Linked DNA regions of Homo sapiens. The protein of the gene in region 2 binds, or shares a complex with, the protein of the main gene of each other region. Each region holds a gene or a part of one and is shown on either strand. Other genes may lie near its edges.

Region 1 (7,026 bases), on a different chromosome or scaffold from region 2:
TCTCAGCTCACTGCAACCTCTGCCTCCTGGGTTCAACCTTCATTTTTTTCCCCTAATTATCTTATAAACCACCTCTTTCAGCCTCTCAAGTAGCTGGGATTACAGGCATGTGCCACCATGCCTGGCTAATTTTTGTATTTTTAGTAGAGACGGGGTTTCACCATGTTGATCAGGCTGGTCTTGAACTCTTGACCTCAGGTAATCCACCCTCCTCGACCTCCCAAAGTGCTAAGACTACAGGCATGAGCCACCATATCCCGCCTCCCTTGCCCCTTTTCTAACTTTGCTTTTTGTATCTGAAACTCATTCACACTAAGGTGTGGAATACATATATCCTGATATCTTATATGTAGTCATGTGTATTATATATGTAATTTCTGCACACTTAAACTGTCAGAAACAATATATTACAACTTCTACTTTTTAAAAAGTTTGCTACATTAGGCTGGGTGCAGTGGCTCACGCCTGTAATCTCAGCGCTTTGGGAGGCCAAGGCGGGCAGATCACCTGAGGTCGAGAGTTCAAGACCAGCCTGACCAATATGGAGAAACCCCGTCTCTACTAAAAATACAAAATTAGCCAGCCGTGGTGGTGCATGCCTGTAATCCCAGCTATTCGGGAGGCTGAGACAGGAGAATCACTTGAACCCAGGATGCAGAGGTTGCGGTGAGCTGAGATTGCGCCATGGCACTCCAGCCTGGGCAACAAGAGCGAAACTCTGTCTCAAAAAAAAAAAAAGTTTGCTACATTAGTGTCAGTATACATTTTATGATTTACTATGCTTTTGTTTGACCTAAAATGATGAGATATGTTTTTAAAAAGCAGTTCAAGGTTAACATATGGATATAGGCATACAAGTATTGATATTAAATTTTGTTTCATTTAGGGGGAAAATGCATTTACCCTAACAGGGATGAAGACTGTACATTAGGGCCGTGAAATTCCCCTAGTGGAGTGCCAAAGGCCTGGGAGCGCACTTAGCCCGGGGAGGCCCTCCCCACTTCCCAAGGAGCAAGAATATGCTTTCTTCTTGCCTAGTGGAGGGCAGGAACAGTGAGGGGAGGGGGACATACTGAGTGACTGTGGAGGGGTAGTGTATTGTGGCTAGAGGTAGGAGACCTGCCCTCAGACGCTGGCCCCAGCTCTCATAGGTGTTTTAGGGCCAGTCATTTCCTGTTTCCTTGTTTCTTCATCTGTAAAATGGGGATAAGAAAGCCCATCCTAGCTCCATTATAGGGTGGTTGAAGAGTCACATGAGAAGATTTTTTTTATTTTTTAGAGACGGCATCTCACTATGTTGGCCAGGTTGGTCTTGAATTCTTAGCCTCAAGCAATCCTCCCACCTTGGCCTCCCAAAGTTCTAGGATTACAGGTGTGAGCCACCACACCCAGACTTTTTTTTTTTTTTTTTTTTTTTTGAGAGGATAGTTCTGAAAGGACCTTGAAAGGACCTTGTAACTGTTAAGTGCTGGACAGTTGTAAGGTGCTGATACTGTCCCAGCCCTGGAGAGATGGGATGTGAGACTAGAGGCTCAATGTAGTCAAGAGAGGAAGAGGCCACAGGAGTGAATCAGGTCCTGTGAGTAATAACCTGGGGGCCTTTGGCCATTCTCAGCTATCCCATTGAACTCTTTCATCTACTGATTGAGGATTTTTCCCATATTTTCACTCACCAAACTGTGAGCCTTTTGGTCAAAATGGGGCAGGACCTTTTGGTCAAAAGGAGTAGAAACCCAACTCTTAGCTTTGGCAAAGGGACTTATTAGAAGGCTGCCAAGTTAGCTCTCAGAGCTGAAGGCACTGCCAAAGAGCCAGACAGCTCTGGGAGCCTCCAGAACTAGGCATGGGGATTGAAGATACCAGGATGCTGTCTCTGTCTATCTATCGTTTCTGCTGGTCTCCCCCAGGCTTGATTCCCTCCCACCGCAAACAGACCTTGTACGTGTGGAGAGAAATGACTTCCAGCAGCAGGAGATCCAGATCCTTCAAGGACATATGTCCTTCTGTCTCCCTCCACTTGGACAAATCTCAAGAAGGACTCCGATTGGCTTATATCAGATAGCCACCCCCCAACAAGTTGCCCTGACCAATAGACACTCCTTTTGGCCAGAATCTATTATCAGAAGCCAGTGGAGCCGCCCCAAACACCAGCTACCTCGCCTAAAGCAGACCTACCACTGGGCTAGAAATTGGAGACAAAAATGAGGAGGAGACAGCCCCTACACCTCAAGAAGCTCACAGTCTAGTGTGGGTGTGGGGAACGGGTGGGCAGTCAGGTTACTGGAGTGATGCAGGTACTGGAAAGATGGGGTCTGACAACGGGAGGGGTTGTTTTGGGGTATCAGGGACAAAGAAGCACCTTGCCTTCAGAGAGGAAGTGGTGCTTGAGCTCAGACTCAGAAGACCAGTGATTGTCCCTTTCCCTGGCTGAGGTGGTGGGAAAGGCATTTCAGAGGGAACAACTTGAGCAAGGGCTGGGCAGCATGAACTGGGCTGCAATGTCCCAGATGCAAAGAGGAGCTTATTTCCAACAAGGTGTCCAGCCACGGAGGGCCTTACACACCAAGGTGAGGAGGCTGGATTTTACCCAGTGAGCAGTGGTGAGCTGCTAGAGGGCTTACATGGAGCCTGCCACAGCGGCTGTGTGAAGGCTAGATGTGAGAGAACCAGACTGGATGCCAGAGACCACATGCCTAACAGCTGAAGCTGTGATCCAGACAGACACTGGGGCCCTGAGCTAAGGCAGCAGCAGGAAAGGAGAGGCTGCCTGGGTGGGAGACAAAACTGAATCAGTAACTAGATGGTGGGGTGGGGCGGGAGGGCTGAAAGAGAGAGAGGTGACTCCCTGGTTTCTGGTGCCGGCATCTGGATGGATTGAGTTTGAGGGACCTAGGCAGCATCCCAGTGGACTTGAGTCTGGAATGCAGATGTAGGAGAGTCTGGCATTACACCACCACCCCCTAGCCTCACCATCCTGGTAACAGTACCCTCTGCTTCTCCTGGGATGTCACAGCTGGGAAACCCCACCTGGAAGAGGTGAAAGCTAGAACCCATCAGAAGGAATGAGTGGACGACCATGGCGGAATTCTGAGGGACCTTGGCACGTGAGAGATGGGCAGAGGGAGAGAAGTCTGTGGTGAAGACTTTTGGAAAAAGAATGGTCGGAAAGTAGGAGGAGAGCCAAGAGAGTGGCACGCCAAAGGGTGTCCCCCAAGGGCAGGGGTCAGAAGGCAACCTGCCAAGGGAGGAGCCATACTCCACATCCTCATAACAGTGACAGCGGGGCAGCAAGGAGTTAGTTTTGCTCGTTATCCTTTTAAATATACTTTGTTTTCTATGTTGTTAGTTTAAAAAGTAGATTTTTTTAAACACTTAGAACTAAAATCCTCCTTAGAAGAATCTTGTGTGTCTGGTAATAATTTGCCTGCCAAAATATTTTTGTGATATCCATTTTTAAAAAATCAAGAGATGATTAACTGAAAATTATCAACTCTGATCTTATGCAATTAATTTTTTCAACATTTGCCTTAAAATGACATCAGGCCTTATGGTATGGATGTTCCTATAAAGGCTGAAGGTAGTAGGGGCTCATTTTTATACCAGCCATGCACACGGCAGCCATGTGATATGGAGCGAGGCCCTGCCCCTTCCTTCTGAGAAGTTGGTTCAGGGCCCTGGAACATGCCCCGATGGGTCCTGCTGTGTCATGCCCAGAGGCAGGCTGCAGGCACAAAACAGCAGCAAGACCAATTAGGACCAGATCGTAGGAAGAACTCCAGGTCCTGAAAGTGAGGTGCTAGACGGTGGGACTAGAGTCACCTGATTGCAGAGGCATCCCACCTGGCCCCAGGTGGGGTTTCCCAGGTGTGGCTCCCCAGGAGAAGAAGGAGAAGGGACTGCCTGCCAGTATGGTGAAGCTGGATGGTGCTGTGAGGAATGACTAAAGAGTCAACTCCAGGGCAATGCACACCAGCAACCTGGGGCTCCCCCTGCCAAGCCTGGTCCTGCTCCCTGGGTGTGGCCCATGGGTGTCCAGGGACATATCTGGGACCAAGGGAAATTATAGAATGTTTTAGGCCAAAACCAAGCAGGAGTTGGGCTGGCCTGTTGCCTCTGACCTTCCTCCTTTGCCTCTGTCGTACTGTCTATGAGCCCCCAACACCACCCTGCCTCCTTGCCCTTCACATCACTCCTGGAAATAGGGAAGGGCCTCAGAAACTTTGCACTCACCCAAAGATACCATCTCAGGTCAGCACTCAAGAAGCAGGTCTCCTGGATGTGGTCTCTGCAGCCTCAGACCCCTGCCCCTCATAGTACCTTCACTCTCCACACACCCTGTATGCTTTACAATGATCAATATTAACCGACCATTATCTCAGGGGGATCTCCACTACAGCCCATGTAGGAAGATATTATTATCCAGTTTCTCAGATAAGGAAACTGAAGCTCAGATAGGTTAAGTAACTTGGCCAAGGTCACAAAGCACATAACTGACAAAGCCAGAAATGCAAAGTCAGCCGGTACCACTAAGCAGCAACCCCCTCCAGCCCTACACTCTGAGATGCCATTAGTCAAAAAGCACTATCTGGTTATTCCACAATTCTGGACACAATCTGTGTGTGAATTTGCATTTGATTTGCATAGGGGATGTCACAATACCTAGATATCTTTCCCGCACTATCTCTCTCCCTGCCACCCGCCTCTCAACCAGGCTTTTCCTCCTTGAGATGCCTGGCAGGCTGGGAAGCACCATCTGGTCCCTCCCTCTGCCAAGGACGCCTTTGCTGGTTCAGAGTGTTCCCTCCCACCGGCCACTACCCAGTGCACTGAGTCGTGAGGGTGCACATCTGATGGGAAACTGCCTGGAGGAGGAACTAGGTGCCAGCAGCCCCATTTGGGCTTTCCTCCAGCAGATCTCAGGGCAGGAGTGCAAGGGTGCAGGAATGGGCAAATGGGGGAGGGTCCCCGGACCAAGACACATCCTCTATCTTCTGTCTTCAGCCCCAGATTTAGCTGTCTTCTCGCCTCCCACGCTTGCCCACTGCTGTCTGGAATGCTGGGAGGCTGGGAGAGCTAGAGGAAGACTGGATGGGGAGATGGAAGGGAAGGGACCTGGAGTTTGAGCTCTCAGTGGGAAGGAGGAGAGAAGGGTGCTGGCACCTTGGGCAGGGCATGGGTCTTGTTCCCCTCTCCTTTCTCTCTCAACCTGCACTCTCTGAAACAGTAGCCACATTGAAACGGTAGGCTCAATGTGCCCATTGAGCCATCAAATTTTGAAGACCTCATATGAAAACATAGTATATAAAATGTCGCATTAATAATTTTATATTGATTATATGTTTAAATAACATTTTAGACATACTGGGCTAAATATAAAATTAATTTCATGGTCAGGCACAGTGGTTCACGCCTGTAATCCCAGCACTTTGGAAGGCTGAGGTGGGTGGATCACCTGAGGTCAGGAGTTCAAGACCAGCCTGGCCAACATGGTGAAACCCCGTCTCTACTAAAAATACAAAAATTAGCTGGGGGTGGTGGCAGGCGCCTGTAATCCCTGTAATCGGGAGGCTGAGACAGGAGAATCACTTGAACCCTGGAGGTGGAGGTTGCAGTGACCCAAAATCGCGCCATTGCACTCCAGCCTGGGCAACAAGAGCAAGACAAAAAAAAAAAAAAAAAAAAGCTAATTTCACCTGTTTTTCTTTTTTTTTTTTTTTTTTTTTTTTTTTTTGAGACAGAGTCTTGCTCTATCACCCAGGCTGGAGGGCAGTAGCACAGTCTTGGCTCACTGCAACCTCTGCATCCCAGGTTTAACTGATTGTCATGCCTCAGCCTTCCGAGTAGCTGGGACTACAGGTGCCTGCCACCCTGCCCAGCTAATCTGTGTATTTTTAGTAGAGACAGGATTTCACCATGTTGGCCAGGCTGGTCTCAAACTCCTGACCTCAAGGGACCCACCCACGTTGGCCTCCCAAAGTGCTGGGATTACAGGCATGAGCCACCACGCCCAGCCTTGTTTCTCTTTACTTTTTAAAATGTGGGCACTAAAGAAGTTAAAATAGCATATGTGGCTTGCATTTTGGCTTGCATTATATTTCTGTTGGCCAGAGCTGTTCTCAACCCCATCCTACGGATCAGGCAGTTGCTGTTCTATGAAATACTTAGTGCAGGGTCCTGTTATGAGCTGAATGGCTCTTTATTATATCTGTGTCTTTTGGCAATATACACCCCTCACCCTCAGAGGGCCGGTCCAATGTAGGGTTCAGAGCATGAATTTGACAGACTGAATTTAAACCCACCCGTGATACTTCTAAGCTGCATGACATTGGGCAAGTCAATTAGCCTCTCTGCTTCAGTTTCCCAGCAGAAAAATGGGAATAATACAAGCACCTATCTGAAAAAGCCTTTTCTGAAAAAGGCTTTTCTGAGGACACATGAATTAATAGGCATAAAGAACTAAAAAGATTGTCTGGCACAGAGCAATTACTGTAATTGCTGTAGAGCTATTATCTAAAATTTGGGGCTGCTCCTTGCTAGTTTCATGTGTCAGATACTATATTATGCCCTTTGGATGCATTATTTTATCCACTCCTCCAAATAATCCTACTGGAACTGCGACCTTCATTTCTCAGAGGCAACATCTGAAATTCAGAGAGGTTCAGTAACTTGCCCAAGGCCACACAGATAACTTGGATCTGCTTCACTCCAGGGACTGATCGTTAAGCACTATTCTGTACCACCTCTCTTAGTAAATGCCCACCAAGACCCACCAAAGTAACACCTCTACCCTCTTCCTTTTGCTCCAGATCCCTACCTGTTTCAAGGACCTGCCAGTCTGAGAAGCTTCTTGTCATAAGGCCATCCAGGGGCCACGCACCCCTACCTTGCCAGCCTCCAGCATGCAGGATACCGTAACGACATCAGCATTGTTGGACCCCAGCCACTCCTCAGTCTCCACCCAGGACAATTCCTCCACTGGAGGACACACTTCAAGCACAAGCCCACAGCTCTCAAAGCCTTCAATCA
Region 2 (7,026 bases):
TAGTAGAGACAGGTTTTCGCCATGTTGGCCAGGCTGGTCTCGAATTCCTGACCTCAGGTGATCTGCGCGCCTTGGCCTCCCAAAGTGCTGGGATTACAGGGGTGAGCCATCGCACCTGGCTCCAGGTGACTTTAAAATATAGCAATCTGTCTGTACATCCCTGGAGGGACACATTTTAAGAATAAAAGGAACCATAAAACAGTGTAAACTGTCTTTAGTAATCATTTGTTGGTGGCAGGGCTGATATTTTCCTCTGAGGCAGTTCTGTGGTGCTGTGGGGAAGGCATGTGATTCATTATTTTGAAGTCACTGAGCACTAAGATTTTAAAGTTGGAAGAAAGGGGATACACTTTGATACTGTTAAATAAAAATCCTGGCATCCTGTTGATGAGGAGGTATTAGAATGAACTCATGATTTATTTTATTACCAAAAAAAAGAAATCCTATACTCTCAGCTCTGTCCACTGAAAAGGCCTAGAAACAATGGCCAATCCAAAACAATAAGCACCCAGCGCCCACAGCGTGGTTTCTAAATACCATTCCCTGGGCATGCATGGTGACACAAGCCTGTAATCCCAGCACTCTGGGAAGGAATCGCTTGAGCCCAGGATTTGAGACCAGCCTGGGCAACATGGCAAATCCATGTCTCTACAAAAAAATACAAAAATTAGCTGGGCATTGTGGCATGAGTCTTTGGTCCCAGCTACTCGGGAGGCAGAGGTGGGAGGATTGCTGAAGCCTTGGCGGCAGAGGTTGCAGTGAGCCGAGATCCCACCACTGCCCTCCAGCCTGGGCGACAGAGTGAGACCATCTCAAAAAAAAAAAAAAAAAAAAAATTCCCTATTTGAAAGGACCAGGGGATCCTTGGAGAAATGGCTGATTCCAGACAAGAGGCAGGAAAAGTATAATGTGTGCCTTGAACACCTGGTCATCCTGGAGAGCCAGGACGCTGTTAAAAAAAACTACTAGGGCTAGCCAAGCGTGGTGGCTCACACTTGTAATTCCAGCCTTTTGGGAGGCTGAGTTGGGGGGATCACGGGCTCAGGAGATGGAGACCATCCTGGCCAATATGGTGAAACCCTGTCTCTACTAAAAATAAACAAAATTAGCCAGGTGTGGCAGTGCGCACCTGTAGTCCCAGCTCCTCGGGAGGCTGAGGCAGGGGAATTGCTTGAACCCGGGAGGCGGAGGTTGCAGTGAGCCCAGATCGCGCCACTGCAATCCAGCCTGGCAACAGAGCGAGACTCTGTCTCAAAAATAAATAAATAAATAAATAAATAACTACTAGGGCTGAATCAAAAGGACCCAGAAGCCAATATGAAGATTTCCACTAGCCAAAGATGGAACAATTTGAGCCTCAATAAGGATAATTACTTTAGTAAACTAAAATACATCAAATTTGTTTAAACTCATGCATTCATAATATTTTTTAAAAACTCATTGGTACCTTTGGAAGATGCTAGAGGCCCAACCCATTATTTTGAAAACTGGTAAACAGAGAAAAAATAAGCATCTATCCTGCTTTTCATATACAGACTATCTCAGGGTAGCAAATTGCTGAGGAAGGGAAGATTTTCTTTTAAGAAGTATTCTGTTAAATAAAGACACAAGAACAGAATCTAACATATCACCATTTTGCAATCCCTAATACAGTTAATGGATCTTAGACAATGATTAGCAATGGTTGCTAACATCACAAAAAGGGAGACAATTTAACATTAGTTTATCCCGATGGAGGTACTACACAATAGTGTACTTAGCAAAAATAAATTGGACCTGCATCTGATCAAGCTTCTAGACCTAACTGCCAGTTTATAATACAGGAGAGAGAGCAAAGCTATAAATTAGAGGAGACTTAAAAGCGATACCAATAATCATACTCTTCCCCCTCCTCCCTAGACTATCTCTAACGTGACTGGCTTGACCCGATGTTCTCAGGGGGCTCCTCCAGCTCTAAGGCTCTATGACAGTGTTCTAGTCACCTGAGCGCATAAGCATTTCTTCTACTATCTGTGTGGCGGACTTCTGGGGCTGCTGAGAAATAGGCCCAACATTGTTCAGGAACCAGAAATCAGGTGCTGCCCAGGGAAGCCCCAGATGATGGGTGTGGATGATCCTGTCCACATCAAAGGCTCTGGCTATTAGGTCCTTCGCCTCCTCTTCATTCATCAGCCAAATCTCCCAAAACTTCTCATCATCAATAAGAGCAAAATGCCTGTGAAGGAGAGTCACAGAGCATGGCCAGCTGGCCCCAGGACCTGGCCAGGGTCCCCTCAAATAGCAGCAGGGCAGGAATATGAAAAGGAGCTGTGCTAATTCCTGGGCCTGGCCCCATCCCTGGGCGGCTGATTCCCACTTACGATAAACTGGAAGCCATCCCAACACATCTCAAGAAAAGGCAGGTGACACGCAAGTGAAGGGCCAGGGGAACACACCACAAAAGGTTAACTAGTGCCTGGTCCAGCCCCAGAATAGCTGGTGACATCAAGTCCAACGAAATCACAGCTTGTACAAACTCCATCCCCGTCACCTCTATGCTAGGACAAGTGCCTTAGGACCAAGTCCTTAAGATACCTCATGGCTTTCTGTAGCTCCTTGAATTGCATCACAAGACGTTTGTAGTCCGAGGTTAGAGACTGGTTCTCCTCCTGAAACTGCTTTATTTGCTTGGCATATTTTGATCTCAGATTGTTAAGTATATCATGCAGGCTGGTTGAAGGAGAAAAAGGTTAGTCTGCAGCTGAATAGAAGGTATTATGTATGTTCCTCTCATCCACCTGATTCAGCTCTACCACAAACCCAGGAGCAGATCTGTGGAAGAGCAGAAAACCCTCCCATATATTCCAAAACACAGATCCCATTTTGATCAACAAAAGGAAGGCAACAGGAGATCTTGGGACAGTCCAAAACGAAACGCATTGAAAACAATCCAGAGCCCATTCCCACCAAGAGGCAGCCTCCTACTCAAGACTGTGGACAGAACCTACTTCACAATACATCATTTGTCAGAATGCCCATACCCATACCTAGGGCCAGCCTCACATATTTAAATAATCTATCTCAACGATTTCATTGTCATGACTTGGATGTTTAATTCAATCATGAAGCAAGAAAATTTTAAAGAAAAAAAATGCATATCACAAAAGCCTATGATACATAAATCTTCCAGCCTCAAAGAGCTGATACCGTTAACAGGTCCAGTAACTCATTCATTCATTCATTTATTCACTCATCCACGTATTCATTAAACAAACATGAAATGCCACTTTTGCGCAAGGATATGTTGAAAGACAAAGATGAATACAAAGATACGTTTCAATACAAGGTACTATCAGTCTAGTCAAAAACAAAGACAAACGTTAATTACAGTACAGCGTGGAAAGTGCTATAGGAGAGTTTTATGCAGGGTGCCAGGGGAGCCCAGAGGTGAGGCATCTAACTTACCCAGGCTTGCAGGGGAGGGGGTGGTCCAAAATTTCCAGAATAGCAAGAGGCAGTTAAAACCTGTCCAATAGCACTGTGAATCCAGGCACGGCACAGCTCACCATCTCACTGCTAACAGGAGCTCTGTGCATGGAAACTCGGCCCATAAAATATGCATGGCAGGCGCAATGTTTAGACCCAGGCCCATACTTCAGACTTCAAACTACTACAGAGGTGGCTCTTATCAGTGCCCCATTCACACAGTAACAGAGAAGCTGAAGGCCAACATATTTTAAGTTTAGAAATTCTAAAAATAAGATTTTCCCTCTCCTAAGCATTATTCTGAAATGATCAAAATGTCTCTCAAATGCAAACATTCATCATTCATATTTTCATCATCAAGAAAATGCAAAAAAAGTCGTTACCTTAGTCTCTGATAGAAAGAAACAGCTAACCCATTTCCTTAACTACAGCCTTCAAGGAGGCTTTCCAAGCACAGATGTAAAAATAAGTAGTCATTCCAAAGTGTTTTTTCCCAATGTCATGCAGTAAAGGAGTTCCTATGTGTCATCTAATTACCGAAGCTAACAAAACAAACTCCAGGTGCATACTGAAGGTCTGGGCAAGATAGCAGGCGAGGAAGTGAACAGGGAAGAATGGCTGCAAGAGGAAGCTCAACAAAAAAAGTCCAGAGTTCTTAGTGCCTGGAAGCTAGAGATGCAGGGGAGTGAGGCTGGAGAACTGGAAACAGGGAGCAGAGGCAAGTCTGGTTTCAGAAACTGTGCCCTGGAAATGACAGGGCCTCTCCAAGCTGAACTGTTACGTTGGCAGTTCCAGGTAAATGAAAGGTGAGCTCAGGATTGGGGATATGAGGTTGGCAGTCATCAACAAAAAGGGGATATTCAAAACCATGAGACTGAGGTATGTGGCAGATGAAATAAAAATTAAAAGCAATGGTAAGGCCTGGATTTTCTAGATTGTCTTATCTAGATACTCAAGACATATCAAGCAAGGAAAAGCAGAACCACCAAAGGAAACAAATACATTAAGAAAGAAGAGCAAATATTTTAGGGTCATTTAAACCAAAGAAGAAAATCCAGTATCCAATCATAATAGATGAGGCCTGAGGAGAAGCCACTGCGCTTGGCTAGAAGGGCATCATCAGTATCCTACTGTGGGAAGTTTTTGTCCAATCCTGGGGTCATAGGTTGCTACGGCTTGAATGTAACTCCTCCAAAATTCAGTGTTGTCAATGTGATAATATTAAGAGGCAGGACCTTTAAGAGGTAATGAGGCCATAAGGCCTCCTCCATCATGAATGGGATTATGGGATTAAGGCCTTTATAAAAGAGGCCTCCCAAAGCCTTAGGCCAGCTTGCTCTCCCGCTCTTCTACTGTGTGAGGACACAGCATCCCTCCCCTCTGAAAGATGCAGCCCTCACTAGAAACTAAACCTGCCAGCCTTGATCTTGGCCTTCCCAGACTCCAGAACTGTGAGAAATAAACTTTTGCCTTTGTAAATTATCCAGTCTCAGGTAGTCTGTTAGAGCAGCACAAACAGATATGTCAAATTGTGAAATGCTGGGTGGTGGTGAGCAGGAAAGGAAAATGGCAATGAAAGCAAGAGACGAAAAGATGGTGCTTAGAAACAGCAGGGTCCGTTGAAGGGTTTTTCAGGCTGAGGGAAAGCTGTCTGAGTTTGAAATAAGAGGGAAGATTCCACTCATCTCTCAGCCACACGCATCAAACCCAAGCTCTGCCTCAAGCGCCTCCTCCCGCCTCCTACCTTACCCATTCTCTTCACCCACTGTGTGACTTTCTGAATCCTACCTCCTTGCCTTCAGACCAGCCATTCCCAGCTGCCAGCACTGTCCACCTGGAGTCTCCTCTTAACTGCTTTTTGCCAATTCATGTCCCCACCCCCTCCAGTATTTCACTTCTTTGGGAAGCTTTCCCAGGTGCCTCCTCACTGTATTGATGTGTGCCTTTCTTGGATGTTCTGCTATCTAGTACGGTGCATATATAGTGGGAATTTTTTCATAAATATTGTCCCCTGTCTATTCTTATTTCTCAGATAATCAGGCTTAAGATGCCATCCCATTTATTCAGTATCATTTTCTGTAATAAGTAACTACCAAAAGGTCAACTGATGTTCCTCTATACATTCAACATGTGTCCAAAATGTATGTATTACCAACCTACAAGTGGAATTAATTCCTAAATAATAATAGGCTATTTGGGGTTTGGAGGGAAATCCCCAATCTTGTCTCCTTCCACAAGCAAGAAGTCTTATTTCACTCTGGTCCTCAGAGCCTAGCACAATGGTCTGAAACTTAGAATGCAATTCTTAAAGGAAGAAAGGCAGGAAGGATAGGAGTAAGGAGATGAGGAAGAAGGGAAGGATGTATGAGAAATTTCAAGCAATAGGTACCTTTCAGTGAGCCACGGTATCTCCACAAAAGCAAACTGGCACATGTCATGAGTACTTAGGTTGGTATTATTTGCAAGAGGAAAAGGTTGGAAGCAATCTACATGTCCATCATTAGAGACTGGTCAAATAAATCATAGTGCATCTATGCAGTGGGTAGTAAGCAGCTTAAGAAACTGTGAAAGCTCTCTATGAACTGGGATGGAAAGGCCTTCAAGATATACAGGAGTGTGTACAGACTGCCATCATTTATGTAAAAGCAGATGGGGGATGAGAATATTTGTGTGGGCTTGTATATGCCTAATGAAATTCTGGAAGAGACAAACAAATAATGGTTACAGAGGTAGGAAAGAGGAACAAGATGAATGGGGACGGAAGATCTTTTGCTATGTACTCTTTTCTTGGGGAGAGATTGAATGTATTAACTTTTCCAAAAAACTATTTTAATAAGTGTTGGTTATATTTTTAATGGTTTCTACCCCTTCAATAGAAAAAAGTACATATCCATCCCTATTCTCAGCACAGAAGGCCCAGAAGAAAGACGCTCTGCATGCTAGCTTACCGATTGATCTTCCTCTTCTGCTGGGATTTAATTACTGTGCTTTCTTCATCTCTCTTCTTCAGCACCTGCAAGTTGTACTCTAATTTCTCTTGGTTTAGCTGATAAATTGCTTTCCTCTGCTGAAGCTGCTGCTCAAGAATCTAAAGTTAAAAAAACTATATATATATATATACACACACACACACACACACACACACAAACACACTAACTCTACACCTGCATCCTTAGTATTATATACACTAGAGTATTTAAAATGTCTTTTGGGGAACATGCTTTATATAGGTAAATATTTACATAGACATACTTATATAATCCTGTTTATGTCTGTTTATTTACCTAGCTATGCATAGCCATATTCAGATGTATTCATCTTTGTACCTATATTCATAAAGAATAAAGAGGTAAAAGTATTGGTAGAAATTTATACTGGAAGTAATATAAAAAGAAACTTTCCTACATTTATAAACTTATCTGCTCTGTGAATTATATCTAAAATTGTATGCAAATAAAGGTATGCTCTGAAACACAAATATATATATGTGTGTATATATATATGTGTGTGTGTGTGTATGTGTGTGTGTATATATATATATATTCACACACTAGTTGGCCC

The links. Proteins that work in one complex are often made in the same cells at the same time.
Region 1: DRC1 (region 2) and DRC5 share a complex: the UniProt entries of both Homo sapiens proteins name them as parts of the nexin-dynein regulatory complex.

The regions. Positions count from the first base shown.
Region 1 is NC_000006.12:44,287,699-44,294,724, reverse strand, and holds part of DRC5 (dynein regulatory complex subunit 5), read left to right. Parts: intron 1-1,907; exon of another isoform or gene 1,908-2,247; intron 2,248-6,806; 5' UTR 6,807-6,899; coding exon 6,900-7,026. UniProt on the Homo sapiens protein: Component of the nexin-dynein regulatory complex (N-DRC) a key regulator of ciliary/flagellar motility which maintains the alignment and integrity of the distal axoneme and regulates microtubule sliding in motile axonemes.
Region 2 is NC_000002.12:26,439,905-26,446,930, reverse strand, and holds part of DRC1 (dynein regulatory complex protein 1), read right to left. Parts: intron 6,554-7,026; coding exon 6,414-6,553; intron 2,710-6,413; coding exon 2,575-2,709; intron 2,216-2,574; coding exon 1,983-2,215; intron 1-1,982. UniProt on the Homo sapiens protein: Component of the nexin-dynein regulatory complex (N-DRC) a key regulator of ciliary/flagellar motility which maintains the alignment and integrity of the distal axoneme and regulates microtubule sliding in motile axonemes.